Linked DNA regions of Homo sapiens: region 2 is linked to region 1. The links come from fine-mapping of genetic effects on gene expression. A gene starts in region 1. The other region holds a variant in brackets. All regions are shown on one strand. Distances are from middle to middle.

Region 1 (17,174 bases):
GGCCGGGTGTGGTGGCTCATGCCTATAATGCCAGCACTTTGGGAGGCCAAGGCAGGCGGATCACCTGAGGTCAGGAGTTCAAGACCAGCCTGGCCACCTGGGCAACAGAGCGAGACTCCATCTCAAAAAAAAAAAAAAAAAAAGAAAAAAAAGAACTCTTACAACCTCAACAATAAGACAACCCCAACAAACACATGAAAAGATGTTCAACACCATTAGTCATTAGGGAAATGCAAAACAAAACTTCACACCCATTAGGATGACTATAATCAAAAACAGATAATAACAAATGTTGACAAAGATACAGAAAAACTGCACCCTTCAAACATTGCTGGTGGGAATTTTAAAATGGTGTAGCTGCTGTGGAAAAGTGGTTGCTCAAAAAGTTAAACAAAATTACCATAGAACCCAGTAATTTTACTCCTAGGTATATACCAAAATAACTGATAACAGGTACTCAAATACTTGTACACCAATATTCACAGCAGCACTATTCACAACAGCTAAAAGGCAGAAACAACCCAATTGCTCATCAATAGGTGATTGAATAAACCAATGTGGTTTATACATATAACAGAATATTACTCAGCCATTAAATGGAAAAGAAAGAAGAGGGAGTGACAGCTCAATAGTAGTTTTCTTTCGTGATGAAATTGTTTTGGACCTAGACAGAGATGTCATTATGAATGCACTAAATGACACTGAATTATACATTTTATAAAAGGGCTAATTTTGGCTGGGCACAGTGGCTCACACCTGTAATCCCAGCACTTTGGGAGGTCGAGGTGGACGGATCACCTGAGGTCATGAGTTTGAGACTAGCCTGACCAACATGGAGAAACCCTGTCTCTACTAAAAATACAAAATTAGCCAGGCATGGCACATGCTTGTAATCCCAGCTACTTGAGAGGCTGAGGCAGGAGAATCACTTGAACCCGGGAGGTGGAGGTTGCTGTGAGCCGAGATCGCGCCATTGCACTCCAGCCTGGGCAACAAGAGCAAAACTCCATCTCAAAAAAAAAAAAAAAAAAAAAAGGCTAATTTTATGTTCTGCAAATTTCACCTCAATTTTGTTAAGTTAAAAAAAAGCAGCAGCTCATAATCTATACAAAAAAAGAGAAAAACATAAATTTATCTAAGAACACAAGAAAACAATGCATAAGCAGGAATTAAATTATAGTCAATAAATGCTAAAATGTAGACAGCAGTGCTCATGGAGAAAAAAAAGAGAGAGGGACATCAAACTATGAAAAAAGTTGTCCATAAGAGAAGGAAATGGCATAGGTGTCAAAAAGTGCTGTTTTTCAAATAAAGAATTCCAGAATGATTTAGCGCTTAAAAAAAAAAGATAACAACAAGTGTTGATAAGGATGTGCAGAAACCTGAACCCTGGAGGGGATGTGAAATGGTGCAGCCACGGCTGGGCGCAGCAGCTCACGCCTGTAATCCCAGCACTTTGGGAGGCCGAGGTGGGTGGATCATTTGAGGTCAGGAGTTCGAGACCAGCCTGACCAATATAAGGAAACCCTCGCCTCTACTAAAAATACAAAAAGTAGCCGGGCAGTAGTGGCGGGCACCTGTAATCCCAGCTACTCAGGATGCTGAAGCAGGAGAACGCCTTGAGCCTGGGAGGCAGAGGTTGCGGTAAGCCAAGATAGCGCCACAGCACTCCAGTCTGGGCGAGAAAGTGAGACCCTGTCTCAAAAAAAAAAAAAAAAAAAGGTGCAGCCACTATGGAAAACACTTTGGTAGTTTTTCAGAAAGTTAAACGTAAGAATTATCATATGAATCAGCAAGTCTACGCTTAGATATATACCCAAGAGAATCAAAAATACACATTCACTGACCGGGCGCGGTGGCTCACGCCTGTAATCCCAGCACTTTGGGAGGCCGAGGCGGGTGGATCACGAGGTGAGGAGATCGAGACCATCCTGGCTAACACGGTGAAACCCTGTCTCTACTAAAAACAAAAAATTAGCTGGGCGTGGTAGCGGGCACCTGCAGTCCCAGCTACTCGGGAGGCTGAGGCAGGAGAACGGCGTAAACCCGGGAGGCGGAGCTTGCGGTGAGCCAAGATCACGCCACTGCATTCCAGCCTGTGTGACAGAGCGAGACTCCATCTCAAAAAAAAAAAAAAAATACACATTCACACAAAAACTTGTAAACGAATGTTCGCAGAGCATTATTTATTCATAATAGCCAAAAAATAGAAACAACCCAAAAATTCATCAATTGATGAATAAACTGTGCTGTATCTATACAATGTAATATTTATTATTCTGCCATGCTACATAATGGATGAACCTAAAAAACATTATGTTGAGTGGCTCATGCCTATAATCCCAGCACTTTGGGAAGCTGAGGCAGGCAGATCACTTGAGGTCAGGAGTTCGAGACCAGCCTGGCCAACATGGCAAAACCTCGTCTCTACTAAAAATACAAAAAAATTAGCTGGGTGCGGTAGCACGCGCCTGTAATCCGGGCTGAGGCAGAAGAATCACCTGAACCCGGAAGGTGAAGGGTTGCAGTGAGCTGAGATTGTGCCATTGCACTCCAGCCTGAGCAACAGAGCAAAACTCTGTCTCAAAAAAGAAAAAAAAAAAGAATTATGTTGAGCAACAGATGCCTGGCACAAAAGATCAAATCACATATTATAGGATTCCACTAATGTGAAATATCCCAAATAGGCAAATCCATACAGACAAAAAGTAGATTAGTGGTTGCCAGTGATACCTGCTTTTTCCAGTATCATGCATTTTAAAATCCAATGATTCACTAATATATTTTTCAAATTAGGATCTAGGAACCATCTGTATCAGAGTCACCGATGGACCCTCACCCACGTGGGGCTTATAAAATCAAAACCTGTCAGAAGCTGGGGGAGGACAAAACGGGGGTGACTGCTTATGGGCAGGAGTTTTCTTTTTCAGGTAATGAAAATATTTTGGAATTACACTATGGTGGTACAACTTTGTGAACATACTAAACGCTGCTGAGTTGTGTATACTTTATAAGGGTGAATTTTGTGTTACATGAATATTTCAGTATTTTTAATGTTAAATTTTTAAAAGTTGATTTGCAAATTAGAAATTAAAATCCAAATTACTGGCCGGGCATGGTGGCTCATACCTGTTATCCCAGCAGGAGGCTGAGGCAGGCAGATCATTTGAGGTCAGGAGTTTGAGACCAGTCTGGCCAACGTTGTAAAATGCTGTCTCTACTAAAAATACAAAAATTAGGCCGAGCACAGTGGCTCATGTCTGTAATTCCAGCACTTTGGGAGGCCAAGGCAAGTGGATCATGAGGTCAGGAGTTCGAGACCAGCCTGACCAACACAGTGAAACCCCATCTCTACTAAAAATACAAAAATTAGCTGGGCGTGGTGGCATGCACCTGTAATCCCAGCTACTCAGGAGGCTGAGGCAGGAGAATCACTTGAACTCGGGAAGCGGAGGTTGCAGTGAGTTGAGATCGCACCACTGCACTCCAGCCTGGACAACAGAGCAAGACTCCATCTCTAAAAAAATAAATAATAAAATAAAATAAAATCCAAATTATTTTTAGGCTAGGTGCAGTGGCTCACACCTATACTCCTAGCACTTTGGGAGGCCAAGGCAAGAGGATCATTTGAGCCCAGGAGTTTGAGACCAGCCTTGGCAACATAGTAAGGCAGCGATTTTAAATTTAAAAAAAAAAATTAGCCAGATGCGTGCCTGTAGTCCCAGCTACTCAGGAGGCTGAGGCAAGAGGACTGCTTGAGCCCAGGAATTTGAGGTTACAGTGAGCTATGGATTATGCCACTGCACTCCAGCCTGGGTGAAAGAGCCAGACCCTAAAAAAATAAAAATAAAAAATCCAAATTGTTTTTCCTTTTACATTTGTCTGAATTACTGAAGATAGAATGCTGAAATCACTGAAATAAAAGGAAAAGTGTAAAGTACATTACTAGGAACACTAAGCCAGAGTCTCAGGTTAATGTCATCTGTATTCGGATACCTATATTGGGTGGTAGTTTAGATTACATACCTGGAGGGCTCCCCTTTCCAATTCTTAATTTAAGAAATAGGATTAAATTTCCCAAGTTGAGTCACAAAAGTTGTTTTAAGTCTTATCTCCTCTACTTGCAAAGTTACACCATGGTCTAAAAGTATCATCAGCCTTCTCTCTCTCCCCACTGTGTCTGTTCATTTCACACAGATGGTCTCTACTAGAAAAAATAAAAGCAATTTATTTAGCTAACACATAAAACATGTGAATGACTGATAGCTGTAAACAGGATTCCCTCACCTCCACTCCTCCAAGTCCCTAGCCCCCAAATGAGTGTTACTTGGGCATTTCATAAAACCAAAGTTTAAAACATTTAGGGGTCAGCAATGGTTGCCTGGGAAGTGATATATTAAAGCAAGAATGCCACCAAAGTCAGCATGGTACTGGATGGTAGTATGCCATAGATTCAACCTCCCCTAATTTTCCTGCTTTTTCCAGTATCATGCATTTTAAAATCCAATGATTCACTAATATGTTTTTCAAATTAGGATCTAGGAACCATCTGTATCAGAATCACCTATGGTCCCTCACCCAACCCAGGCTTATAAAATCAAAATCTCTGGAGACAGGATCCAGGAAACTTAGTTTCAAAGTGATTCTTAGGCCAGGCGGGGTGGTTCACACCTGTAATCCCAGCACTTTGGGAGGCCGAGACGGGTGGATCACCTGAGGTCGGGAGTTGGATACCAGCCTGACCAACATGGAGAAACTCTGTCTCTACTAAAAATACAAAATTAGCCGGGCGTGGTGGTGCATGCCTGTAATCCCAGCTATGTGGGAGGCTGAGGCAGGAGAATCACTTGAAGCCGGGAGGCAGAGGTTGCAGTGAACCAAGATCATGGCACTGCACTCTAGCCTGGGCAACAAGAGCGAAACTCGGTCTCAAAAAAAAAAAACCAAAGTGATTCTTAATACACACTCAAGTCTGAGAATCACTGTTCCAAAAAGTTCAACAAGATAGAAACTGAAGCCATTTAAGGTATGGATAATATGTAGGATAGAGACTACACTTGAAGTTGTTTTTTAATTTTTTTTTGGAAGAATCAGGGTCTCACTCTGTCGCCCAGGCTGGAGTGCCATCGCAGAATCATAGCTCACTGCAGCCTCAAACTCCTGGACTCAGGCAATCTTCCCAAGTAGCTGGGACTACCGGCACACACTACACACCATAGCACCTGGCTAATTTATACCTGTATTCTGAAGACACAATTACTGCCGATAGGTATACTAGGCAGAACTAAGTACAGAACACTTATATGTCTGGAACTCACTCACTACAATTACTTCATTAAATATAAATGTGAGGTATACATATATGTTACACAACACCAAAGAGTAAAAATGGCAGACATCACAAAGTAATGGTATACTAGTATTCAAACCAAGAAGAGATTCTTGTTTCCCCAACACACTACAAAAAAGGCGGGGGCGGGGGGGCGGTGTGGGGAGAAAATAGGGGCGGGGGGGGCGGTGTGGGGAGAAAATAGTTTCTATTCTCTCTCTTTCTGCTGGGGTGCAGTGACATGCACTCCTGCACGCACCACAGCCTCAACCTCCCAGGCTCAGGTGATCCTCCCACCTCAGCCTGCAGAGTAGCTGGGACTACAGGTTCGCACCACCATGCCCAGCTAATTTTCGTATTTTTCGTAAAGATGGAGTTTCCCCACGTTGCCCAGGCTGGTCTTGAACTCCTGGAATCAAGTGATCTGCCTACCTCGGATAATTTCTATTCTGTATTTCTTCTGTACTTGAGTAAAAGACTGATTATCAGCTAATAAGAACTTAGATGGAAATAACCCTCATTAAATCAAGTAGAAAAACTGACCTCTTGAGAAATTTCAAACACCAACATGCAAATATAGCATATAACTGTCAGTACTAGGATGGTTTTTGCACATGTTAATGGCTTTCAGAAGGATGGGATCTTTACTTTTCTCTCCTGCCACTCTGTATTTTGCCAACAGGTTTACTGACCAAAATAAACTCTATTTTGTGTAAAAAGAAAAAAACAACTTATTGATTTTAAACTATTTATGCTGACACACTATATCCCTAATTCTTTTACTTCCTCATGCTTAAAAAGCACTGAGACTCTCTTTTAAAAGTATGTGGAAAGTTTCTAGTGTGCAGCTAGAAGACACTTCTGAATCACTTACTATCAAAGACTTAATTTATATTATCTCTAACTTTTTACAAAAACAGGTTAGTTTTGATGATAAAAGTCCCAGTGTTTTAAAACATTGTGGTTAGAGTGAGCAATATTTACTCAAAATATTTACAGAGCACTTACTATATGTCCCAGACTGAACAAAATTATGTTCAATAAAAAATAATCCTCGTAATTTGTTTGATGCTTCTGAGTCTCCAAACATTACAAATATTGTTACAAATACTAGAATACGTAGGCAAGATTGAGCAGAATCTTTCCCAATCCTATCGCAGACCAAGGAAATGTGTTTCTAAAACAATTTCTATTGCTTCAACTATTTAAAAGCCAAAAAAACAAACAAACAAACAAACGAGTACAGGGTGTCTATAGTTTCCAGTGTTTGGATAGCCACTAATACTTTGAACAGTAAGTTCCTTCTGATAGCACTTATACCCTATACTATGTACCTCCTGGAAAATGATGGGGAAACCGCTCCTTCTCAATAGAAAAGATACTATTAAGAAATGAAAGCACTTAATATCAATATACTAATTTCTAAAATCCGTTTCTCTGAACTCTAATCGAAGTAGCAGAGAAAAGGAAAATTATACTTCTCCTCTGTCACTCTAGAAATAACAGTTATTTTGCCAACATTTCTGCATTCAAAAAAAAATGAGTTAGCTATGAGAAGACCAGAGAAACTGATGCCCAATTTAGGTCACGATCACAAAACTGTGGAAGACAAAAAGCACAGCCTACGCAGAAAAATCGGATATTCCTTCCCAACACCCGCAGAACTCTAGATACACGTTTTGTTTTTCTTTTTTTAAAATGCTGCTTCGGCGTTCTCGAAACCTGGTGGAATTATACTGCAGGAAAACACTGGCGCTCACGCACCGTAGCGTCTCTCAGCCTCAACAGAGCGATTCCAAAACTAACTCCGCAGTCCCTGGGCAAGGCAAGGAGGGAAATAAAACACCCGTCTCACGAAAGCCAACAGTGATGGGAACAGCCAGCCCACCGAGCCCAGCGAGACCCGAGTGCCCCGCGCGTCCCCCAGGTGCCCTTGGAGGCAGCGGCACGCGGACGAGGCCGCGCCCGGTCCCAGCGGACTCCAGTTCCGCCCGCCGGCCCCATCCTTCCCTCTCCTGTCCCCGGGACCCGCCGGGCTAGCCAGGCCCGCCGCGCCGGCTCCGCCCCTGGCCGGGCCCCGGATTCTCCGCCTTGATGCAACGCTGCCCCGGGAGGGCGGGTGCGGCAGAGCCCGGAGAGCCCTGGGGCCCCCAGCAAGGCCCTCCTCCCACAGGCCCCAAAGGCTGGCGCGGGAGTGGGCGCTGGCGCGGGAGTGGGCACTGCCGCAGCACCGACCAGGCCTGCGGCCGGGGTCTGGCCCGAGCGAACGCCGCCTGCTGCTCTCACCTGCGTTCCCACTACGACGATTTGAGGCAGCTGGATGATGTCGGCGCCCACCGTGTTGAAGACGTCCTGGAGCTTGTTTATGACAGGAATTAGCGCCTCCATGACTCTGAAAACACGGGGCCCCAGTGCCCGCCGGCCACGGCAATGAATGGGGCCGGGGCCCACAGTTCGCCTCCTTCCTCCTCTCCTCCGCCCTCTCCTCGGAAGCCGGCACCCATTGGACCGGGCCCGCCGGCTACCTGCCCCCTCCCGGCAGGCCATGCGCTGCGAGGGAGGTGGAGAGGAGCAAGGCCTGCTGGGAGTTGTAGTTCTGGAGCGGAGGAACGCTACTCCCCACAGCTTCCAGGAGGCTGCGCGGCACCGGTGGGCCCTAGCCTGGGACTGGGATGCTGCGCAGGCTCTAGTCAAAGGCTAGGAGCAGGCCGGGAGCGCAGGAGGAAGGCCGTAAATTTATGCCTGTCCTCAAGGCACGATGGATGTGACAGTGCTGGGTGTGAATATGTGTTAAAGGCGCAATGGTGTGTCTCTTAATTATCCAGTGTCACTTCCTTTTATTTATTTTTTATTTATTTATTTTTTTTTTTTTTTTGAGACGGAGTCTCACTCTGTCGCCCAGGCTGGAGTGCAGTGGCGCGATCTCGGCCCACTGCAAATTCCGCCTCCCGGGTTCACGCCATTCTCCTGCCTCAGCCTTCGGAGTAGCTGGGACTACAGGCACCCACCACTACGCCCGGCTAATTTTTTGTATTTTTAGTAGAGACGGGGTTTCACTGTGTTTTCCAGGATGGTCTCGATCTCCGGACCTAGTGATCCACCCGCCTCGGCCTCCCAAAGTGTTGGGATTACAGGCGTGAGCAGTGTGACTTCCTTATGAAGACACTTTCTCTAGAAGGACGGGTTGGAAAGGCTTAAAGAAAAGCTTATGGCCGCAAACAACCAAACTGGGTGCAAAAAAATCTGCACGCTGATACGAGAATGTGTGGGGTGTTATTTTGCAAAAATACAAAAACCAGCCCAGGTTAGAATACGCGGGTTCTCCAGGGGTTTTGTAAACAAACAAACAAACAAACAAAATGTGTGTTCAGGACCGAGCGCGGTGTAATCCCAGCACTTTAGGAAGCAGAAGCAGGAGGATCGCTTGAGCTGGGAGTTCGAGACCAGCCTGGTCAACATAGTGAGACCTCATCTCTACCAAATAAATAAATAAATAAATAAAAAAGCAGGGGTCGGAGCAGCGGGGGGCGGTGTTCATGAAAAAAATCTTAGAGTATTGGAGTTTTACAGGGGAAGAGCTGGGCATTTATTATCAATATTATGTATAAACCTTTATTTGCTGTAGCCTGATTCCTGGCAAAGTAGACATCTGATAACTGCCTTACTCACTCTTTGCTCATACCGTTCTTTTTTTTTTTTGAGACAGAGTCTGACTCTGTCGCCCAGGCTGGAATGCAGTGGCGCAATCTCGGCTCACTGCAGCCTCCTCCTCCCAGGCTGAAGTGATTCTCCTGCCTCAGCCCCCCAAGTAGCTGTTATTACAGGCACCCGCCACCACCCTGGGAAAATTTTTGTATTTTTAGTAGAGACGGGTGGGGGGCGGGGTTTCACCATGTTAGCCAGGCTGGTCTCGAACTCCTGACCTCAAGTGATCCGCCCATCTTGGCCTCCCACAGTCCTGGGATTACAGGCCTGAGCCACCATGCCCGGCCCATACTGTTATATTTCTAAATGTTGTTTTTCTTTTTAGACAGATAGTATCCCTCCTCTACTCCAAACCTCCAAAGGTAAAAGTAAACCTCAAAGTAAAAAGGTGACATTTGAGTAAAGAATTAAAGCAGGTGAGGAGAGGCCAGGCACCGTGGCTCACGCCTGTAATTCCAGCACTTTGGGAGGCCAAGGCAGGCGGATCACTTGAGGTCAGGAGTTCAAGACCAGCCTGACCAACATGGAGAAACCCCGTCTCTACTAAAAATACAAAAATTAACCGGGCGTGGTGGTGCATTCCTGTAATCCCAGCTACTCAGGAGGCTGAGGCAGGAGACGGGCAGATCACTTGAGGTCAGGAGTTCAAGGCCAGCCTGGGCAACACGGCAAAACCCAGTCTCTACAAAAAATACAAAAAAATTAGCTTGCCTGTCGTGGTGGTGCATACCTGTGGCCCCAACTACTTGGGAGGCTGCAGTAGGAGGATCACCTAAGCTTGGGAGGTGGGGACTGCAGTGAACTGTGATCGTGCCACCGCACTCCAGCCTAAGTGACAGAGTGAGGCCCTGTGTCAAAAAAAAAAAAAGAGAAAAGAGAAAAGAAAACATAATAAGAGCACTTTTTCCAGTCTGAGCAAGAGGATAGAGATTCGAGAAAGACTTCCTAGAAGTTACTAAATTTAATCTCCATGAGGACAAGAACCACCAGCAGTAGTGGAAGTTGTGCACTACGCAACTCCAGTGGGTGCCATTCACCTGCTTAGCTGTACACAATGGCTGCGGGGAACATGCTTGATTTGTTCAGCAGGACAAATGGCAGGTGCTTAATAAATATCTGTGAACAAATGGATGAAGTAAGCCAAGACCTAAAGATCCATTAGTGGTGTTTTGGCATCTTGACAGGTTTTGTGAACATCTCCTCTTTGATTATTTTCAAAAAAAAAATTTTTCAGAGATAAAATAAGACAAAAATTTCAGAACTCCAAAAAACAGTTTTATTCCAAGTCTCTTGACTTTCTACCAAAGATAATATTACATAATAGTCAGATATTACCCACTTTGCTTCTCACCCCTCTGTTGATGGAGCTTTTGTTTTCTTCTAAAGAAAACAGAAGGCCGGGCACGGTGGCTCATGCCTGTAATCCCAGTACTTCAGGAGGCCAAGGTGGGCATATCACCTGATGTCGGGAGTTCAAGACCAGCCTGACCAACATGGAGAAACCCCATCTCTACTAAAAATACAAAAATTAGCTGGGCGTGATGGTGCACGCCTGTAATCCCAGCTACTCGGGAGGCTGAGGCAGGAGAATTGCTTGAACCCGGGAGGCAGAGGTTGCGGTGAGCCGAGATTGCACCATTGCATTCCAGCCTTGGCAACAGGAGCAAAACTCCGTCTCAAAAAAAAAAAAAAAAAAAAAGAGCCAGGCCCGGTGGCTCACGCCTGTAATCCCAGCACTTTGGAAGGCCGAGGTGGGCGGGTCACCTGAGGTCAGGAGTTCAAGACCAGCCTGACAAACATGGTGAAACCCCATCTCTACTAAGAATACAAAAAAAAAATTAGCCTGGTGTGGCGCGTGCCTGTAATCCCAGCTACTCGGGAGGCTGAGGCAGGAGAATCGCTTGAACCCGGGAGGCAGAGGTTGCAGTGAGCCGAGATCGCGCCACTGCACTCCAGCCTGGGCGGCAAGAGCAAAACTCCAACTAAAAAAAAAAAAAAAGAAGAAAAAAAACCAATTTCGGCTTTCATGTTTTAAGTTCAGAACACTCTTGTTTGTGGGAAATCAATTTAACTAATAAGTGGCTAAATGGATTTCCCACAAAAAAGAGTCTTTGTGCATCTAAGAATAATGTGTTCTTCAGTGGCTTCCTGTGGGAATCACATTAAACCATTATCGGATATCAAAAGGCCTTTAAAAAAACCTCTTCTCGGCCAGGTGCGGTGCCTCACACCTGTAATCCCAGCACTTTGGGAGGCCGAAGTGGGTGGATCACGAGGTCAGGAGATGGAGACCATCCTGGCTAACACGGTGAAACCCCGTCTCTACTAAAAATACAAAAAATTAGCCAGGCGTGCTGGCACGCGCCTGTAGTCCTAGCTACTGGGGAGGCTGAGGCAGGAGAATTGTTTGAACCTGGGAGGCAGAGGTTGCAGCAAGCCAAGATCGCGCCACTGCACTACAGCCTGGGCAACAGAGTGAGACTCTATCTCAAAAAAAAAAAACAACAACAACAAAAAACACCTCTTCTCCTGCAACCATCCCTCTCTCACCATAGCTTTATGATTTAGGCAGGATAGCTAATTGTAAGGACAGAAATTTAATTCTGAGCTAACTTGCCTCAAAAATGACTGAATGTCTGGGCGCAGTGGCTCTAGCCTGTAATCCAAGCACTTTGGGAGGCCGAGATGGGTGGATCAGTTGGGGTCAGGAGTTCAAGACCAGCCTGGCCAACATGGTGAAACCTCGTCTCTACTAAAAACACAAAAATTAGCTGGGGGTGGTGGTGAGAGCCTGTAATCCCAGCCACTCGGGAGGCTGAGGCAGGAGAATTGCTTGAACCCGGGAGGCGGAAGTTTCAGTGAGCCAAAATCACGTCACCGCATTCCAGCCTGGGTGACACAGTGACACTCCACCTCAAAAAAAAAAATGACTGGAACTAGGAGCTCAGGCAGAATCAGAGCTCTACATCTTATCACTACATCGTCTATTTCATTCTCTCACGCAGTTTACTCCTGTGGAATGAGGTGAGTGTGCTGTGGGGGAGGGTGTAGGGGATCTCATTCAGCAAGCTGTCTCACAGCAGATGAGGCAGAGAGAACTGGGGAGGAACTGAAACCTAGGAACCTGGTTTCTGCCTTGCTTCTCTAGTATATTAGTTCCCTATTGCTGCCTTAACAAATTACCACAATTTTAGTGGCTTAAAACAACAAAAATGTGGCCAGGCGCAATGGCTCACTTCTGTAATCCCAGCACTTTGGGAGGCCGAGGCGGGCGGATCACGAGTTCAGGAGATTGAGACCATCCTGGCTAACATGGTGAAGCCCTGTCTCTAGTAAAAATACAAAAAATTAACCGGGCGTGGTGGCGGGTACCTGTAGTCCCAGCTACCCGGGAGGCCGAGGCAGGAGAATGGCGTGAACCTGGGAGGCAGAGCTTGCAGTGAGCCAAGATCACGCCACTGCACTCCAGCCTGGGCAACACAGTGAGACTCCATGTCAAAAAAAAAAAAAAAGTATTGTTTTACAGTTCTATAGTTCAGTAGTCTCACACAGGTCTCACTGGACTAAAATCAAGGTGTCACCAGGGCTGCAAACCCTCCTAAAGCCTCTAGCAGGGAATTCACCTCCTTGCCTTTGTTAGGGGCCCCCTGCATTCCTTGCTGGTTACCTCCTTCCAACCTCTTCAAAGCCAGCAATGTCGCATCTCTTTAACTCTTCTGCTGTCATCAGGCCTCTGACCCCCAGAAAAGCTTCTCTGTGTTTAAGGGCCCATCATTAGATTGGCCAACCTGGACAACCCAGGATAATATCCCTGTCTCAAGGCCTGTACCCTTAATCACATCTACAGAGTCTCTCCTGAGACATAAAGTTCACAGGCTCCAGGGATTAGGACATGGACTTATTGGAGGGGCCTACTGCACCTGGTTAAGGTGATTGGTCTAGGGATGGACCTGCAGGACCATTTAGAATCCTTCTCTGAGAATTTCCTAACCTGAATTTGAACAAAAATATTTTCTCTCTCTGGTTATAGAACTGTAAGCATGTGAGTCAATGTCTCCAAAGATCATGTTTCCTATCTCATGGAATAAATTGGTTTGCAAGAATAAACTTCTTTATTCACCTTGAAGAACTTCCCCAAATTCAGTAACTTACCCATATATATACATATATATATATATTTTTTTTTTTTTTTGAGACAGAGTCTTGCTCTATCACCCAGGCTGGAGTGCAGTGGTGCAATCTCAGCTCACTGCAAGCTCCGCCTCCTGGGTTCACGCCATTCTCCTACCTCAGCCTCCCGAATAACTGGGACTACAGGCGCCCACCGCCACACCCGGCTAATTTTTTGTATTTTTAGTAGCGATGGGGTTTCACCATGTTAGCCAGGATGGTCTTGATCTCCTGACCTCGTGATCTGCCCGCCTCAGCCTCCCAAAGTGCTGGGATTACAGGCATGAGCCACTGCGCCTGGCCAACTTTCCCATATTTTTAAATGTACATGTGCTGTACAGCACATAACATCAGAATTCTAATCCCCATAGTTAACCATATGAATTTCTCCATTTTTCCTTGTTGCCCTTTTCACACAATATTATTGAACTATTATTTAAGTGCTTATTGTATGTGAGGCACTATACTAAGCATTTTATCAGAGCCTCGTGAAGTAGGTTTAGAGATGTAGAAACGGAGGCTCCAGGGATTGAAGTGAAGTGGTAAATTTACACAGCTAGTATGTGGCAGAGATGGGATGAAAAGGGGCTTTTTGGCAAACCCCCTTTTTTTTCTTTTTTTTGAAACAGTCTTACTCTGTCGCCACAGTGGTGCGATCTCAACTCACTGCAACCTCTGCCTCCCAGGTTCAAGCAATTCTCCTGTCTCAGCCTCCCCAGTAGCTGGAACTACAAGCGCACACCGCCTCGCCAGGCTAATTTTTGTATTTTTAGTAGAGACTGGGTTTCACCATATTGGTCAGGCTGGTCTTAAACTCCTGACCTCAGGTGATCCACCCGCCTCGGACTCCCAAAGTGCTGGGATTACAGGTGTGAGCCACCATGCCCGGCAGCAAACTCTCAACCGCTACACATTCTGCCTCGTGTATTTATTCCTTTCTTCATTAATTCAACACATATTGATGAAGTACTTGTTAGGCATACGGATCTTAGCCAGGCAGTATATTTTGCTGGAGAGTAGGGAGGAACCGTGGATATGGCACTAACATGCCCTCCCCCTTCACCAATAGTGAGCTCACGAAGGGCAGAAGTGATTATCTTATTTAGCTGGGTTCCCCCACTACCTCGTATGAAGCGTGTTACATAATATTAGTCTACTGGATATGGGGTTTTCTTTTCTTTTTTATTTGGAAAATCTGGAATAACAAGGATTTAAGCAGCTCTGAATTGATATAATTGCAACCAGGACTGGCAATCAAATCTCACCAACACATATGAGTCTGGCTTGGCATAGGACTCCTCATTAGAATAGATGCCAAGTTACTTAGCTAGGGAGTAGCCTGGCTTTGTTCTAACTTAAAATCCCGAATTAGAGGAAGTTTATTTTGGATTAAATTAATAACTGGAAATTAATCGATCTTGGAAAAGGTCAGACTGTTTTTATCGCATGTGTCCAATATCATTTTATGCCAACATTTTGATCATCAATCACAGCCAAGATGCCGGTATCTGCACCTTCAAATCATAGCGGTTAGTGGGGATCTAATGTTAATATAAAATATACAGCTCTGTTGGGGAAGCCTCTTTGTCATATTTTGGAAACTGCCCGTGTTTTGCAAAGATGATAAAGTAAACAGCTTTAATCAATTTGCTACTCCCCAGGCCTCAAGCTTAACACATACTTTGTTAGCAGGTGCAGGAAATTGTTTGCAGATGGTGGAATTGGCCAGATGGTTCAGAAGCCAGAAATTGAATCTGGTGAGATACTGACGGGACCATGAGAGGGCAGTGTGACAACACAATTAAGAGCAGTTAACGACAAAATAACTTGGGAGTTAAGATATGGTCCTGATTTCTTCCCTTTGCTCCACACCCACACCCCAATAGAACGTAGCCCTTCTTTTTATCCTCCTACCATCAAAATTTGTGGCATATTTTAGAAACTATTTGAGATAATAGAGTTATTTTATTTATATTTATATATTTATTTTTGAGATCAAGTCTCGCTCTGTAGCCCAGGCTGGAGTGCAGTGGCACAATCTCAGCTCACTGCAACCTCTGCCTCCTGGGTTCAAGGGATTCTCCCACCTCAGCCTCCCAAGTAGCTGGGATTACAATAGGCGTGGGCCACTCGCCAGCTAATTTTTGTATTTTGTTTATTTATTTTTTTGAAAGACAGAGTTTCGCTCTTGTTGCCCAGGCTGGAGTGCAATGGCATGATCTCAGCTCACCGCAACCTCTGCCTCCCGGGTTCAAGTGATTCTCCTGCCTCAGCCTCCCGAGTAGTTGGGATTACAGGTATGCACCACCACGCCCGGCTAATTTTGTATTTTTTTAGTAGAAACGGGGTTTCTCCATGTTGGTCAGGCTGGTCTCGAACTCCTGACCTCAGATGATCCGCCCTGAGGTGTTAGCTAGACATCCAAAGTGCTGGGATTACAGGTGTGAGCCACTGCGCCCGGCTGTATTTTCAGTAGAGACAGGGTTTTGCCATGTTGGCCAGGCTGGCCTCAAACTCCTGACCTCAGGTGATCCGCCCATCTTGGCCTCTGAAAGTGCTGGGATTACAGGCATGAGCCACCACGCCCAGCAATAGTGATTTTAAATTACAGCAGTGACAACTGAAAATTATATGTTAGACATCCCTGCATTTAAACTACTTCACTTGCCCCATTTCTCAAGCCTTCTCATTAGCCTCTTTACAACTCTACTCCAGGTTCTCAAATGTTGTTTGACATTCTTAGAAGCTTTTCATATCTCCCTTCTCTGTTTTTCTGTTTTTTGTCTCCCTCACACAAACTCAATTTGCTCATATTTGATGGTGAAGAGAAATTTCACTTTTAGCCCTTGGTTAGCTGCTACCTTTGCAGATCTAAAGGCTCCCTAGTACACTATGACAAACAAAAGGGACACCTACTCTGGGACGCAAGATCATGGGAAGCATGACGTGGTTCTGGACTTAATGGTTCTGATGATATTTTCCTGATTCTCAGATAACAGTCGAGATAAAAAGATCCCGAGAGCCAGCTGTCGCTTATGATAAATATACAGTAACTTCTGGTGTACTGATTTTGTGACATTGTTCGGGAAGTAATTCCTGGATGTCTAGCTAACACCTGTTTTTCCCAGGCACTCTAACAGATTTATAAGCATCTAATTTCCCATATTAAATATCTTTCGGGCCGGGTGTGGTGGCTCACGCCTGTAATCCCAGCACTTTGGGAGGCCAAACAGGCAGATCACTGAGGCCAGGAGTTCGAGACTAGCCTGGCAACATGGCAAAACCCCATCCCTACTAAAAATACAAAAATTAGCTGGGCATGGAGCTGCACGGCTGTAGCTCCAGCTACTCGAGAGGCTGAGGTGGGACAATTGCTTGAACCCAGGAGGCAGAGGTTGTAGTGAGCCGAGATTGCACCACTGCACTGCAGCCTGGGCAACCGAGCAAGACTGTCAAATGAATGAATGAATCTCTTTCTGCATAAACTTGGTGGTGGAATATATTTGTTTCCTGGGGCTGCTGTAACAAAGTACCACTGACTGGTTGGTTTAGAACAGCAGATATGTATTGTCTCACAGTTCTGGAAGCTAGAAGTCCAAGACCAAGGTTCCCAAGGATTGGTTCCTACTGTAAGACACAATGAATTTCTCTGAGTTTCTCTTCAAAAATTTAGACTACTAACTTCCTTGTCTTTTGTTCTCAAACTCAACTTTCCTGTTCTTCCTTGCCCCTAGTTACTGTAAAACAGCCTACCCCTTTCATATCAGCTCTAATCAATAACTCACATCTGTTCCCTTGGTTACCTGCACCCATCTAATGTTCCCCCAAAACTGCACGTCTCACACACTCCACCTCTGTACCTCATGTCCCCCTCCCCTTCTATATTTAAAAAAATATATACAAGTAGCCAATCAAGTCAGCTCAGATTGTGCAGTCCAACCCCAGCCCATGGGGTAGGGACATAGAAGTA
Region 2 (10,421 bases), 83 kb before region 1:
CAGAAAAGCACATAGAAGGAGTTAGGAATAAATGTCAATCCAATCTAACTAGCATGAATAGTATCAGACTAAGACAGCCTGATGTGCTCATCTCACAGCAAACCTGAGCAGCAATACCAGTACCATCTGTAAGATCTTGCTAAGCTATAAGCTCTACAAGGACAAGAGTCATATGTCTTCTTATCAGTGAAATTCGCAGAGCCTAATATAGGTCCAAAACATAATAAATACCTCTTGAATGAAAAACTACATAAAGATCTTGTGCAGAGTGGCCAAGATGATGTCCTTTGCTGTCAGAAATATCTGGATTCAACTATTAGTAAGTCTCTTCATCTGTGAGCTAGATAAAAATAATTGCTTTCTGAATTTTTGTAAGAATTCAGTAAAATAATGCATGTAAAGCATTTAATGCAATGCTTAGCACACATAGAATTCACTAGTGTTTGTTGCTATTATTAGTTGTCGTTACCAAACTTTGGTGTCACTTCAAACACCAAAACATTTTACATGAGGAAAATGTGCCTTTAAACCACAATTCTTTGAATACTTATGAGCCTGAATATTTTCTGTATTATATTGGCCATTGGGATTTGTGTGTATGTGTGATTTGCTTATTCATTTACCTAGGAAAAAATCTTCTGGACATTGGCCTAGGCAAAAAATTTATGGTGAAAACCCCAACAGCAAATGCAACAAAAACAAAAATAGACAAATGGAACTTCATTAAACTAAAAGGCTTCACACAGCAAAAGAAATAATCAACAGAGTAAATAGACAATGTGTAGAATGGGAGAAAATATTTACAAATTATGCTGCTGACTAATATCCAGAATCTATCTACAAGGAACAATTCAACAAGAAAAAAAAACTAAACTAAAAAAAAAAAATAAACATTAAAAACTGGGCAAAGGACACAGACATTTCTCAAAAGAAGAAATACAGGCAGCCAACAAACACATGAAAAAAATGTTCAACATCACTAATCATCAGACAAATGCAGGCAGCCAAATTAAAACCACAGTGAGATATCATCTTACACTAGTCAAAATGGCTGTTATTAAAAGTCAAAAAACAACAGATGTTAGCGTGCATGTGAAGAAAAGGGAACGCTTGGCTGGGCATGATGGCTCATACCTGTAATCCCAACACTTTGGGAGGTTAAGGCAAGTGGATCACTTGAGGTCAGGAGTTCGAGACCAGCCTGACCAGCATAGTGAAACCCTGTCTCTACTAAAAATACAAAATTAGCCGGGCGTGGTGGCACATGCCTGTAATCCCAGCTACTTGGGAGGCTGAGGCAGGAGAACCACTTGAACCCAGAAGGCAGAGGTTGCAGTGAGCTGAGATTGTGCCATTGCACTCCAGCCTGGGCAACAAGAGTGAACCTCCATCTTAAAAAAAAAAAAGAAAAAAGAAAAGAAAAGGGAATGCTTATACACTTTTAGAGGGAATGTAAATTAGTTCAATCTCTATAGAAAACAGCATGGAGATTTCTCAAAGAACTAAAAAAAGAACTACCATTTGACCTAGCAATCCCCTTACTGAGTATCTACCCAAAGGAAAAGAAATCATTCCATAAGAAAGACTCAGCATTATTCACAATAGCCAAGTCATGGAACCAACCTAAGTGTCCATCAATGCTTGACTAGATTTTTAAAATGTGGTGTATATGCACCATGGAATAATATGCAGCCATAAGAAATAATGAAATCATGTCCTTTGCAGCAACATGGATGGAGCTGGGGAACATTATCCTAAGTAAACTAACTCAGAAACATAAAATTACTGCATGTTTCCACTTATAAATGGGAGCTAAATAAGGAGTACACATGGACATAAAGAGGGAAATAATGGACACTGGGGATGCCAAAAGCGGGAAGGATGGGAGCGGGCAATGGTTGAAAAATTACCTATCAGGTACAGTGCTCACTATTTGGGTAACAGGCACACTAGAAGCCCAATCCCCACGATTACACAATATGCCCATGTAACAAACATGCACATGTACTCCTTGAATCTAAAATAAAGTAAAATTCGTAAAAAAGAATCTTACACAAAACATTAAAAATCTTTAACTCAAAATTTTTTTTAGGCCAGGCACAGTGGCTCACTCACAGTGCCTGTAATCCCAGCACTTTGGGAGGCCAAGGAGGGAAGATTATTTAAGGTCAGGAGTTTGAGAACAGCCTGGGTAATGTAGTGAGACCCTGTCTCTACAAAAAATAAATTTAAAAAAAAATTAGCCAGGCATGGTGGCACATGCCTGTGCTCTCAGCTACTCAGCAGGCCGAAGTGGGAGGAGCACTTGAGCCTGGGAGGTCGAGGCTGCAGTGAGCCGTGATCATGCCACAGCCCTCCAGGCTGGACATTGCAAGACCCTGTTTCAAAAATACCCATTTTTAAAATTAACTTGTTTTCCAGAGTAGAAATGTTAGATAGAATGTCTGTAAAATTTATTCCCAAAACAGGACATTTTCGAGAATAAAAGGGGTCATATAAATAATTAGGCTGAGACAAGAGGCATATAAACCAGGGCTACATTCACCTATTTACTGGAAGCTTTCTCAAATATATAGTGTGACATCATGTTACAAGTCCATTGGAAAGGTGTCTCAGTTGGTGCTATGTGCTAGATATTTGGTCACCATCTGACACCATTGTGTCCCTGATTGCCACTCCCCTGAACCTCCTTAAACTGTGCTTGGAGAAGAGTTACGTGAGACATACAATGGGAAGGGGCATGGGTGTCTAAGATTTCCTTTGGTTTTAGAAAAAAATAGCTATGAGAATACAGAGGAGTTGTTTTCATTTGCTATCTCTGTTAGTGACACCCTTCCAGGTCGGTCTCCCACCCACGGGCAGCTTTGAATGAGATCAATGGCAATTGAAACTGTTTGGATCTGAGCAAAGCTGCTTGGATTTTCACTGGATCTTTCTGCAAATATGATATATGTTTCATTGGTCAACTATCACTTTCTAAATCTTCAATCTTAATTTTTCAAAACTTGTCATAATACAGTTTCCCTCTAATAACAGCCATGTAAGCATGACTTAAACTGGCTTCTACTGCTTAAGCAAACCTCAGTAGAGGAGAAAATAGATGTATTTATTTATTTATTTTGTAATAGAGTCTTGTTCCGTCACCAGGCTGGAGTGCAGTGGCATGATGTCGGCTCACTGCAACCTCCGCCTCCTGGGTTCAAGCAATTCTCCTGCCTCAGCCTCCCAAGTAGCTGGGACTACAGGTGTGTGCCACCATGCCCAGCTAATTTTTTGTATTTTTTGGTAGAGATGGGGTTTCACCATGTTGGTCAGGCGGTCTCGAACTCCCAACCTCAAGTGATCTGCCTGCCTCAGCCTCCCAAAGTGCTGGGATTACAGGCGTGAGCCACTGCGCCCAGGCTTTTTTTTGTTTGTTTGTTTTTTTCTTTGAGAGGGAGTCTCACTTTGTCACCCAGGCTGGAGTGCAGAGGCATGATCTCTGCTCACTGCAACGTCCACCTCCCAGGTTCAAGGGATTCTCCTGCCTCAGCCTCTCAAGTAGCTGAGATTATGGGCGCCCATCACCATGCCCGGCTAATTATTTTTTGTATTTTAGTAGAGATAGGGTTTCACCATGTTGGCCAGGCTGGTCTCAAACTCCTGACCTCAAGTGATCCGCCATCTTGGCCTCCCAAAGTGCTGGGATTGCAGGCATGGGCCACTGTGCCTGGCCGATGAATACATTTTTAACCTCCTCCCTGGTGTGGTGGCTTAAATAATGAAGTTAAAGCTGAGAAACAATAAATGGGACTTTTGACTACTGTGATAGCAAACAGGCATTTCAGAATTGTAGAGGTGAATGAGATTTTAGAATTCATCTAATCCAGCCCATTTACTTTTTTTTTTCTTTTCTTTTCTTTTTTTTCTGAAATGGAGTCTTGCTCTGTCGCTCAGGCTGGAGTGCAGTGGCGAGATCTCAGCTTGCTGCAATCTCTGCCTCCCAGGTTCAAGTGATTCTCCTGCCTCAGCCTCCCAAGTAGCTGGGACTACAGGTGCCGGCCACCATGCCTGGCTAATTTTTTGTATTGTTAGTAGAGACAGGGTTTCACCGTGTTAGCCAGGATGGTCTCGATCTCCTGACCACGTCGTGATTTGCCTGCCTCGGCCTCCCAAAATGCTGGGATTACAGGCATGAGCCACCGCGCCAAGCCCAGCCCATTTACTTCTAAAATGAGGACACCAAGGCTAGTGTGTTAAATGACTTATCTAAGGAGGAACAGGTAGTCAAGGTTAAGCTGAGATAGCTACTCATGTCTGTGACTCCTAGTCCCATGGTCTTTGGACCACGACTCAGAAGCACATTTTGTTATGGTTGTGAGGATGAAGGAAGTAATATTTGACTTTTCTGCAAACATTATGTAAATACAAGGTATTTGTTCCCCTTATGATGTTACAGAACATTAATGAGTGAGATGTTTCCAGACTTATTTCTCATTTTGGTAACTAACCAGTCAGTGCTTATAACAGAAAAACATAAAGTCCGTATTGAAGACACTGAGAAAAAAAGACAAAAATAGTTTTAATCAAAATAGAATTGCTCTACAAAACATAGAATGATTGCTTATTGTTTTGTTTCTTCTCCAATGGAGATATAAATTCACTTGGCCTTGATGGAGGGACAATGATGAGTTGATTGATTCACTTCTACTCTGTCAGAGAGACCAGAAAATTACTAAGGTAACTTGATAAATAGGAAAATTCCAAAATGATCTTCACTGAAGACATTATCCATTTGATCTAAGCTTTTCAGATGCAATCACAATAGTGTCTCCAAGATCCTCTTTCTAAGAGGGAAGCCTGCTTTTCTCATCACATTAGCAAACAGCCAGGCGGATTCGTTGCTTGCCAGTCATGGCTGAATTACAGTCCCGACAACATGGCCTGGGAAAGAACATGCTGGTAGGGGACTGCGGCGGCTATCACCAAGCTCAGAGCAGAAGGGGTGGATGTTGGGGAAAGGGTTCTGCGAGGAGAAAAATTCACTGCAGCAGGAGTGAAGGGAGACACAATTACATATTGAAAGGGGAAAAGCTGTTTGAATTCTACTCTACACCTCAATCACCACCCTCCTACAAGGGATGTCTTTCCCTTGGTCATATTCTCAACAAATGTTTCTCTCCCACAGCCCCCTCCTAATCTGCATGTTCTTCAACAGCTACCTAGGAGTCACTCTCTCTCTGCTCCAAAAATTGGGCGTGGAAAAGGAGCCCAATCAGAAAGAGGAAATGAAGAAAGAGGAAGTGAAGAATAAAACTGCTCAGAGAAAAATAACTTCATAGAATAATATTATCTCCATGAGGACAGGAATCTTTCTTTCATCCATGAATATATCCTAAGCCATTAGAACAGTGCCTGACTGATCAAATAATTCTAATAAATATCTGTTAAATGAATAAGCAAACATCTATGTCCTTAACCCACTAGAATGGTAGGAAATTGTTTCTCCATCATTATTAGCCTCCTTCCCGCTTCTAGGGTTTTACCAAAATTTGATCAACGTGCCCCAGGAAATAATATCTCTAATTTCCAATTGGTTCTGATCATTCTAGCCATCCTTGTTGGCCAAGCCTTCAGTGGTTCTCTGAGACCTCCAGCTGGCACTCAGGGGCTCTCCTGCCTCAAATGAAGCAGAGGAACCTTAGGCAAAGCCAGGAGCCCCAGGCTGGAAGTGTAGCAGGAGGTCGTCCCTTTGAGGCCAGGGAGCAATGCACAGCTCCTCTGGCAAACCAGGGCCATAGCCAGGGCTCCCTTGCCCAGGTTTGGGGCAGGGGCACTCTCTTTAAGCTGGAGAATCCTACCTCTTTCTCTTCTCTAAGCTTATTTCCTTAAACTTCATCCTATCTTAGGCTTTTGACTTTTGGAAACAAAAGTTACAAAGAGTTCCAGGATGACTCTGTATTCCTCCCCGACTTGTACTTTCCCCAAGGCACTGACACACAGAACTTGCTACAAATGGACAGTTAAAATGAAGAGAGGAAAATGAAAGATTTTTTATTTCTTTGTTTTTTTGAGACGGAGTCTCACTCTGTCACCCAGGCTGGAGTGCAATGGCGTGGTCTCAGCTCACTGCAACCTCTGCCT[T/C]CCGGGTTCAAGCGACTCTCCCGCCTCAGCCTCCTGAGTAGATGGGACTACAGGCGTGTGCCACCACACCTGGCTAATTTTTGTATTTTTGGAAGAGACGGGTTTTCACTATGTTGGCCAGGCTGGTCTCGAACTCCTGACCTCGTGATCTGCCCACCTCGGCCTCCCAAAGTGCTGGGATTACAGGCGTGAGCCACCGCACCCGGCCTGGAAAATGAAAGATTTTTAAACCCATAAATATCTCAAAACATTATCCAGCCATATGGTATGGGACCAGGTGCATAAAGTTAAGGCAATGCTGAGACCTCCAGGTTATTCCACTGGCTACAACAGCAGCCTAAAAGAAAGAAAGAAAGAAACTTGGGGTATCCTTCTCTAAACTCTAATATAGAAAGGAAATGCATATCTAGTAACATGTTTCTTTGTCTAATTATCCTCCTACAATCAGCATCTTAAAATAAGCTAATCTCTTATAAAAAATTTTTGGATGTTAATATGACCATCAGCTCAAAAAGCATTAAAGCCACTTCAATCAAGGGACACAGACTAGGTTTCAAGACACTTAGCTCACATAAATTTCTATAAATTTTAATAGAACTTAATGGTCTTTCCATTTTTTTGTGTGGGAAGGGTAAGCATTATTGATTTTACATTTTAATACATTTTAGGGGCATGATGAACCTGGACAGTAAAAGCATCCTTCCTTCGCCCTACCTAATGCAGAGGAGCTTCCTGAAAGAAATTAGTTTGGAATGAAAGGGGAGCAACTGCCTTGCAGGTAAGGATGGGCAGAGTGGGAGGATCTTTAGGACTTTAGATGTAGGTTTCAAGAAAAACAGCAACATGAAAGTCATGTGTGAGAAGATGTAATTATGAGGCAGATTGAGTTATAAATTATTATACAAAGACAACAAAGACATGAAATCAATCTTTAGAAATGATTCTTCCCAAGTAATAGGAGATAGGAATGTCATGGAAATACTTCAACTGGAAGAAAAGCCATGGAAATACTTCAACTGGAAGAAAAGCCATGGCCTTTCTGCAATAACCTACAATTTCTTTTTCTTTTCTTTCTTTTTTTTTTTTTTGAGATGTTGTCTCACTCTGTTGCCCAGGCTGGAGTGCAGTGGTGCTATGTCGGCTCACTGCAACCTCCGCCTCCCAGGTTTAAGTGATTCTCCTGCCTCAGCCTCCTGAGTAGCTGGGATTACAGACGCCCGCCACCACGTCTGGCTAATTTTTGTATTTTTGGTTGAGACGGGAGTTTCACCATGTTTGTCAGGCTGGTCTCAAACTCCTGACCTCAGGTGATCTGCCCGCCTCAGCCTCCCAAAGTGCTGGGATTACAAGCGTGAGCCACCATGCCCGGCCGTAACCGGGCATGGTTACGTAGGTTTACAATTATAGGTTTACAATTTCTATTTCTTGTTCCTATCCACTCCCTTTTGCATCTGATGTCACCAATAATCTTCTCCAAGGAAAAAAAAACAGAAAACACAAATAAGAATTATATTTTATAGTGATTATAATGATCAGAATTCCTCAGACTTCTTTCTGCTGTCATTTTGCTGTGATGTTCGAGCAGCTCATATTTCAGCCCTAATCAGATCTCTGCTGTAATCTGAATATATATTTAATACAATGCTAGAGATAGAGAAATTTTCAAAGTTAAGTAGAGATCAGTTAAAATACCATTACTGTTTACTCTGTGTCTTTTGAATTCTATTATATTTATATTTGTTTACATTTTGAAAACCAAGCCATTTAAAACAGGGATCCCTTCAAAGAGAACATTTATGTGGCATTTTGTTGCAGGAAAAGGTAACTGTAAAACACATGTGCCTCTAATTCAAGGCCAGTTAACCTCAAGTTATTACAGTTGAGATAAATCATATTTTTAAAAATACTTTTTAACCCTTGTTCACTCACTTTTTAAGCCAATAAAAACAGCAAGAATTAACTTGGTCACTTTTTTGTAACCCAAATGCAAACCATGGGTGCAATCCCATAAAATTTTAGCCACGGATATAATTCCAAAGGTTTGAAAGTCCCATCTTCTTTATTGCTCCTGTCTTTGGGACAAAGCCCAATTTCCCCTATAATACCAACACAAATTATAAAAAGAGAGTAATTGATCTCACTGTATTTTCCAAACTTGTTGCTTGTTACTGTCATTAAGCTACTGTCAAGTCTCATCTAGCACCTCCTGTGACACCACCTTCTTTTTTTTTTTTTTTTTTTGAGACGGAGTTTGGCTTTCGTTGCCCAGGCTGGAGTGCAATGGCATGATCTCGGCTCACTGCAACCTCCACCTCGTGGGTGCAAGCAATGCTCCTGCCTCAGCCTCCCAAGTAGCTGGGATTACAGGCATGCGCCACCATGCCCGGCTAATTTTGTATTTTTATTAGAGATGGGGTTTCTCCATGTTGGTCAGGCTGGTCTCAAACTCCCAACCTCAAGTGATCCGCTCACCTCAGCCTCCCAAAGTGCTGGGATTACAGGCGTGAGCCACCGCACCCGGCCCGACACCACCTTCTATATCAGACTTTGCTGCCTCTTCATGAGATGCAACTAAACTTAAGAGACAAAGCAGAGCTCAAATCTATTTTTAAAAGACTTTATAATAAATTGTAATCCCAGGTAGAAATTTTCTATTTCTCATTATCCACAAAATTCTTCTCCATTAAGCACAGGTCATCAAGTAACCCTGACATCAAGTAACCCTGGCATACTGTTGTAACAAGTAGGATTTTCAAATTACTAACACACCTGTAAAAGCCAGAGAGTTGTGTGTCACCAGAAACACATGTGTGCCCTATGTATTAAGGTACTAAATAGAAAGCACCATTTGCTGTGTGTGTGACAGTACTGATTCCATGTTAGAAGAAAGCTTGCTTACTTGAATACAATTATTACTTTGCTTGATTTTGTAGATCATTCACTAAAATCAGCCTCAGAAAAACAGGATCTTGAACAGAGATAAAAGAAAATACCTAGATCAGCCTCTCTGTGAATGGGCTGACCGACCTAATAAGAATAGGCTGATGGTACCTGCAGAAAGCCACAAAATATTGACCAAGAAAGCAATGATTTACTGCCGACCTGAGACTGCACACGTTTCACAAAAATCTTTTTATCATCCTTTCTCTTAATTGCCCTTAAAAACCAGAGGTGGTCTTTGAACGCTAGCTCACTGCATCCCCCAGGGTTGCTGGTCTCTTGAATAAAGCTAACTTTACTTTCACTACAGCTCTTCTCTTGGGTTTTTGGCTTTCAAGTGACAAGTGGCCCAGATGTGAGTTTCCTTACGTGTGCTCAGGAGAATTTCCTGCCATACCTACTGAAATCTGTCCCTGATCAAAGTGGTGGACCATATGACTGCAGATTGGCCTTGCGAAGTAGCTCATGCCTGTAATCCCAACACTTTGGGAGGCAGAGGTGGGAAGCTTGCTTGAGGCCAGGAGTTTAGGACCACCCTGGGCAATACAGTGAGACCCCCGTCTCTACAAAAACAAAAAATAAAAATTAGCCAGGCATGGTAGTCCACACCTGTAGCTCCAGCTACTTGGGAGGCTGAGGCAGGAAGATCGCTGGAGCCTAGGAGTTCAAGGCTGCAGTGAACCATGATCCTGCCACGGCACTCCAGTGTGGACAACAGAGTGACACTTAAAAAAAAAAAAAACACTGAAGATCAACAGGTTATGATTGCAAATTTTAAGATATTTTGAACACACTATTTTCTTAAGCAGTTGGGAGTATGTTTAATAGCCTATTGAATGAGTATCTCAAAATCCTATTGAAGTTACTATTTGGCAATGAGAAACTAATTCACTGATAATTATACATGCAAAGAAACTAATTATTAAAATAAGTTTTCATTTTGTTAGATAACTTTATAACGTTAAAAAATGGAAAAGTCCTGTAGGGAATGATTTGGAACATGGCCCAGATCCCAGTCACAGGACCAAGGCACTCAATCCCCCAGCTGCTGGGAGTGTTGGTTGCTTATTGCTCACAGCTGAGTCCCTTCCTGCACATCTCACTCTCCAAAAGCCTTAACCCAGCGTTTTGCTTCCTCCCCAGAAACATCCCACATTTAATGAGCAGTCAGTAAGAGGGTCTAAAGGTCTGCCCCCTGGCCTCAATTCAGGATGACTCTGAAAGGAAATCCCGGCTCCAGAGCCCTTACTGGATTGCCTGAGGCCTCTATTACAAATTGTTCACAGTTCAACTTCTTTCTCCCTCCGCCCAACCCGGCCTCCCTCACTCCATTATAGGTGTTGTTCTTAAGAGCACAC

What was found.
Region 2: its variant is fine-mapped to the expression of DNM1L in T cells (TOPMed, PIP above 0.99).

What each region holds. Positions count from the first base shown.
Region 1 is chr12:32,669,907-32,687,080 of GRCh38, reverse strand. It overlaps DNM1L (dynamin 1 like), which reads right to left and starts at 7,780. Exons shown (of 20, transcript NM_012062.5): 1 at 7,616-7,780. The coding sequence starts at 7,717. RefSeq lists a silencer at 7,223-7,632 and an enhancer at 11,688-12,887.
Region 2 is chr12:32,756,737-32,767,157 of GRCh38, reverse strand. No RefSeq gene overlaps it. Among named protein-coding and RNA genes, the nearest start is that of YARS2, 6.0 kb to the right of the region's middle. RefSeq lists an enhancer at 10,402-10,421. The variant T/C (reference allele first, on the strand shown) is at 6,124.